Linked DNA regions of Homo sapiens: region 1 is linked to region 2. A link means that fine-mapping ties the variant in region 2 to the expression of a gene that starts in the linked region. Tissue or cell type: blood mononuclear cells. Region 2 holds a variant in brackets; the other region holds the start of a gene. All regions are shown on one strand. Distances are between the middles of the regions.

Region 1 (2,908 bases), 41 kb after region 2:
GCACTGAACTGTTGAAGAGAAGTTTTTCAGCCACAGTAGTGCTGATGGGTAAAAATTCTTGTTGGCAAGAAAAACCACTTAGGTGATAGAAAACTGCTTTATAGCATATATCACCCTGAAGGGCATCCACTGTCAAAATGTGGCCCACGGGAGGCTTATGGTCTCACTGTTGCATGTTGGGGCCAACAGTTGGCCTTGGAAATCTGTATCCTGACTGTTGAATTCCATTTTCTAGGCGGAGGTGATTTGTACAGCACCCTAAATGACAGTGCCCAGGAATGTCCTAGGCTTTTTCAGGGTGGGGGCCTCAGTCTGCTGTTGTGCCGGGCCGGGCCTTCCCCAGCAGGGTGTCCTGAGGGATGCTGGTGCAGAAGGCCACTTTGGCTTTTGATGCCTGCCTTGGCTTCGAAGCAACCTTGGGGGCCCTGCAGACAAGCAGAGGGTGGGGTGAGTGTGGTGCCCCTCAGCCCCCCACACCGTTCCCATCCAGCCTTTGCTGCCCAGCAGGTGCCCAGACCCATTTATGAGAAGACTTGGTAGGGGCTATAAATGAGAGGAGAATTGTAGCACAGAGCATAAAACATGAGATGTTTTCCTCCCATCTTTTATTTTTTTAATTTTTTTTTTTTCAGACAGAGTCTCACTCTGTCACCCAGGCTGGAGTGCAGTGGCCCCATCTCGGCTCCCTGCAACTTCCGCCTCCCAGGTTCAAGCAACTCTCATGCCTCAGTCTCCCGAGTAGCCAGGATTACAGGCACATGCCACCACGCCCAGCTAATTTTTGTATTTTTAGTAGAGACGAAGTTTTGCCATGTTGGCCAGTCTGGTCTCAAACTCCTGGCCTCAAGTGATCCACCGCCTCGGCCTCCCAAGGTGCTGGGATTATAGGCATGAGTCACCTCGCCTGGCCCCTCCCATCTTTTAAAATCACCTGTGACCATCCTCACTGAGCTGAGGCCCTCAACCCTTAGCTGGCTTGGTGAGCAGGACATGGGTGAGGAGGATGGTCAGGGTTGCACTGGAGGCCTCCCTGGCTCGCCTTCCCTGCCCTCAAAGGGGATGGCGCCCTGCTGGCCAGGTTGTGTCTGCTCCGGGCTGTGGCCCTGTTTCCCTGAGCAGACTCAGGCAGCCCTGGGGCTGCTCTCTGCGGACCAGGCTCTGTGAGGTAGGCCCTCCACGGCAGAGCGCTGGGCCTCTGCTCGGGCTGAGAAAGGACGTAGGGGCCAGCCTTTAAGGTCAGTCAGTGAACCTTCCGGCTCCAGTCCTGACGGGCATCCGAGGGCAGAGGGAAGCCGGAAGCAGGGCTGCAGGAGGCCACAGGGATTCCCGGGGCCCTCCCCCTGCAGCAGGTGCCTTAGCCTGCAGGGGCTGGTCTGCAGGAAGACAACATCCAGCATATATTTCTGACTTAAAGGATGAATTATTTTTAAATACCTGGGCAAGGAAGATCTTTTACAACTCGGGTTTCAAAGGAACTTGTCCTTTATGCAAGTTATGGGAAGTCAGCAAAACATTCCAGAGAAGGTTACACAGAACCTTCTAGAACCAGCTTTCTCTTGAGATTCTGAATGGAAAGGGAATGAGATAGAGAAAGTGTGAGGGACGCCAACTCACGTGGACAGCATGCCCATGGCCTGCTGGGTGGCCAGAGTCCTTTTGTCCTGCGGTCCATATAAGAGGGTCTGGATCTGGAGACACTGTAGAACACCAAGCAGCTATCATGAGGCTATGGAAGTGTCGCTGAGAGCAGGAAACTAAGGTCTCCCTTGAATGAGAGAAAGATGACCTCATTCTTAGGCCCTGCTGTGATGGAATTAGCATGCTCCTGGGATGTCTCCTAGTGACTGACCTTTGGTTTGGATGTTCTGAGGGATCTAGGCAAAAGTGAACAGTTTTAGCACTATTTCACAAAACTCTCTGTGACTATCTGTATGCAAAAAATAGATTTAAAAGTAGTATTTTTAAAAATAAAGGCAAGAACCTTGGTACTGACCAGAGGATGGGCTCCAGTTTCTATTTTTAAATGTGGCCCTTGTTATAGCCTGGAAAAGATTTAAAAAAATAGTTTTGTTTTTTTTGTAAACACATACTCTACTTTTATTAATATATAGGCTGTCTATACTCTTGACTACACAGCAATGTCTTAGTTATTAGGAACCAAATATTCAGCTTATGGACTACCCAGGGCTGGCTTTGGCTTGATTTCTCCCTTCTGCTTACTTTAAGTCTTGCCATTTGATTGCTTGTAGTAGGCTAGGGCAAATCAAGGAGAGGAGAAAGATTAAAGTTGTGCCCAAAATGGCCAAAATAATTTTGAGAAAGAATGAGGTGGAGAGGTGGAGGAACTTGCTTTACTGAATGCCAAAGACCCTTTTATTTTTTTAAATAAAGTAATTAAGACAGCATGTTTGTCACCCGGGGTAGACAAAAAGACCAGTGGAACAGGGCAGAGAGCCCAAGCCTTGACAGATGACAGAAATGGCCTTGCGGGATTGGTGAGGAAGAGGTGGGCTAGTCAATAAATGGGTACTGGGACCGCTGGTTTTCCAAATGGAAGAAAATGGATCACTACCCCAAATCAAACACAAATATTAAGCTCAAGAAAGATTTGAAGGACTAAGTGTGAAATGCAAAACTTGGAGCTTTTAGATGAAAATACTGGAAAATATATATATATATATTTTTTGATGGAGTCTCACTCTGTCGCCCAGACTGGAGTGCAAGTGGGGTGATTTTGGCTCACTGCAACCTCCACCTCCTGGGTTCATGTGATTTTCCTGCCTCAGCCTCCCGAGTAGCTGAGATTACAGGTGCCCGCCACCACACTCAGCTAATTTTTGCATTTTTAGTAGAGATGAGGTTTCACCATGTTGGCCAGGCTGGTCTCAAACTCCTGACTGCAGGTGAT
Region 2 (2,908 bases):
TAAAAAAGGTGAGTATAATTACTGTTATGAGCTGCAAAGTTGGAATGGCCATGGGGGTGGGGAGTGAACTAAGGGTTCTACAGACTCAGGGATCTGAGGGATCTGTGAATCATAGAACACGGTGTTCCTAGGGGAAAGATAAATGGGCTGCCGGCAGAAACATCCCCAAGTATATATATAATCAAAAACACTTCTAAGCCAAGTTATGATCCAGTTTTCTGACCCTGAGCCACCAGAACACACTGGCTGAAAGGACCCGACAACCTCTATGGCAAGTGAGAGCCTTGGTCCTTCCCCAGAGCGACTGCAGCCAGTTAGGACGCGAGCACTCATTTCTTTTCAGGATGGTTGGTTCCTACTGTGGCGTCCAAATTGATGCGGATACCCAGGGACCCATAGCACCACCATGGCCCCCGTGTTAGAGTAGGGATCTATGGGGGTCATGTCATCCACAGAGCCCTGCCCAAGACACAGCGGGGTCAGAACAGCAGTCTGGGCTGCAGCGACACATCCGAGGATCACTGGCATGTTACTGTATTTAAAGCCATGAGATTGGATTGGAGCAGCAGCAGGTAGATAGAGAAGAGGTGAGTGGCTAAACGACTGGTGGGTGGCAATTAGGGAGAAGCAGGCACTTGTGACAGCGTTGGGGGAAGAGAGGAACTTCCCCAAGCTCTCTGGCCTCCCCAGGCCCCGGGTCTATGAGGAAGACGGCTGTGTCTTTCTCCTTTCTGTGTTCCCAGGGCCCAGCCCAGCACCAGGCACACAGAGGGGACTCAAAAACTAGCTTTCGAGTTACCCTATCATGAACACCACCAACAAACTCCACAGAAAATGTGCTTCTAAGGGCAGGGAGAGCAAATATGCTGTTCTTTGACGGCAAATTATTCTTTTTTTAGTTCTTCAGTGGAAGTGAGAAGTCTTGTCCCTGTTGGGAAGATTAAACAGGGGATGTTTCTTTGTCACTTGGGGCTCTTCCCAAGTTCATTTGTAATGATTATGACATGACTTTCCAAATTAAGAGAGGGAAGTTGTGCAGCTTAGATTACTGCATTTTTTTTATGTGACAAATGCTATTTTTGTACCTTTTGAAAAGGCAGCCTATACCCCAACAAACACCTGCTGTGCTCCTATGAAACAGTGACAAATGATCTACCCACCCAAAATAGCCAGAAGAGCTGTGACAGAGTGGGGACACTGTGGGCTCTGAGCAAGAGTGGCTGGATTCGGATTTTGGAGTGAGACGGAGCATGAAGACGCTGTGTCCTGAGGCCTTTACATTCTCATCTTACTTATCCCTTGTAGCGATCCTATGAGGGAGGGGTTATCCTTACTTTACAGATGAGGAAACTGAGTCTGGGAGGCTCAAGGACCAGCTCGTCCCTGTCCTCCTGCTCCCTAGACCCAGCTGGTCTCAGACCCTGCGGAGCTGCCATCATCTGCATCTGTGCCCTGACTCTTCAGCCTCTCTCCCTGGCCTTCTGGAGACAGACCTCTGACCGGTGGGCTCCATGTGATTCTGGGCTCCAGGACCTCTCCCATGAAGATGACCAGCACTTGCTGAGTGCGGTGTGCCAAGTCTTGTGCAACACGTCTCACACAGCGTAACGGGCAGTGTGGCAAAGTGGGTAAGGTAAGGGTTCAAATCCTGGTTCTGCCACTTTTTACTTGCACGGGCTCGGGCAAGCTGACCACCCTGTGGCTCAGCCTCCACATCATTCACCTCGAGCTGATGGTACCC[G/A]CTGCACGGGCTGCTGTACTGCTTGTGAGTTCATCCACATGAAGAGCTCAGAACAGTGCCTGGCGTGGCAAGACTATACAAGGACTAACTCTGATGGTGGGAGCCAGGAGGTTTCCTTGTGGTCCTTGCCTGGCAGCATCTTCCTCACCTGGGAATGGACTAATGCTTAGCCCACTCCAGGCTACTGACTCTGAAACTCTGTGTGTGGGGCCCAGGGATCTGCATTTTAACAAGCTCTCCATTGAGGCCAATGGACGTGAAAGCTTAGTCTTTCTAACACCTCTATAAGAAGGTCTATTTTGTTCTCATTATTACTATTATATGGATAAGGAGGTGGGCTCAGAGGGGTTGTCATGCCTAAGCTTATGCTGGTACTAAGTGCCAGGATGCAAAGTGGGTCAGTCCACTCCACACCACTGTGCCTGGCCCAGCCCTTCCCGCCAGCTCGACGCACTTCCCTTTCCCACTGGCTTCATTTCCTACCTGGCCAAGCCTGTCGGGGGCAAGCATGCCTCTCGGTCCACAAACTTAGGGAGGCAGGGAATAAGCACAGGGTGATGAAAACTCAATCCCCATCCATTCAAGGGGTTAGAGACCTGATCCCCTTCCCTAGATTGCACCAGAACTGTTGAGGACTTACACAGTGCTAAGGCACCAGGGTGGGGGGCCCACCTGGTCCTCATGCCACCCATCAGTGCTGGCATCCACTAGCCTTCCAAGAGAGCCCTAGATCTTCATCCCTACAGGCAGAGGCTGGGACAGTGGACCACTTTGGATAGTTAACCAGCTTGTTCACTGCACAAACATATCCGGATGGGGTGATCAGTGGGACTGAAATCCCACCTGTGCTGTCCTTGCTGAGCTATGGAAGTGGGTGCAGGACAGCCTCCACCCTGAGGCAGGGCATCTCTTCCTTAGCACCAAGGAACCATCCACGGACCAGGTCATGCACCCAGTGGGCTCATCCATCTTCCCACAAAGGGTGCCTTTTCCCAATTTGCACAAAGGAACCTTAGAGACGGATGTGGCCCTGCTGGTGTGGCCCCATGCTGGTGGAGTGGCTCCCACAGGTCTGCGGTCCTCTGCCACTTCCAGGTGGTGCTCAGGCCCCTGGCCTCACTCAGGCTGGGGGAGATGGGGTGCAGGGCGAGGGCATGGAGGAAGGCT

The links. PIP is the estimated chance that this variant, and not a neighbour inherited with it, causes the effect. A credible set is the group of variants that fine-mapping cannot tell apart.
Region 1: TTC23-AS1 starts here. The variant in region 2 is the best candidate, but not a certain one, in a credible set for the expression of TTC23-AS1 in blood mononuclear cells (TOPMed, PIP 0.53).

What each region holds. Positions count from the first base shown.
Region 1 is chr15:99,137,703-99,140,610 of GRCh38, forward strand. It overlaps TTC23-AS1 (TTC23 antisense RNA 1), which reads left to right and starts at 1,615. Exons shown (of 2, transcript NR_186223.1): 1 at 1,615-2,908. It overlaps TTC23 (tetratricopeptide repeat domain 23), which reads right to left. Exons shown (of 14, transcript NM_001288615.3): 13 at 1,615-1,697; 14 at 1-425. The coding sequence ends at 308. It also overlaps a transcript of SYNM not described here.
Region 2 is chr15:99,097,005-99,099,912 of GRCh38, forward strand. The region is part of intron 2 of SYNM-AS1 (SYNM antisense RNA 1); the gene reads right to left. Among named protein-coding and RNA genes, the nearest start is that of SYNM, 6.6 kb to the right of the region's middle. The variant G/A (reference allele first, on the strand shown) is at 1,742.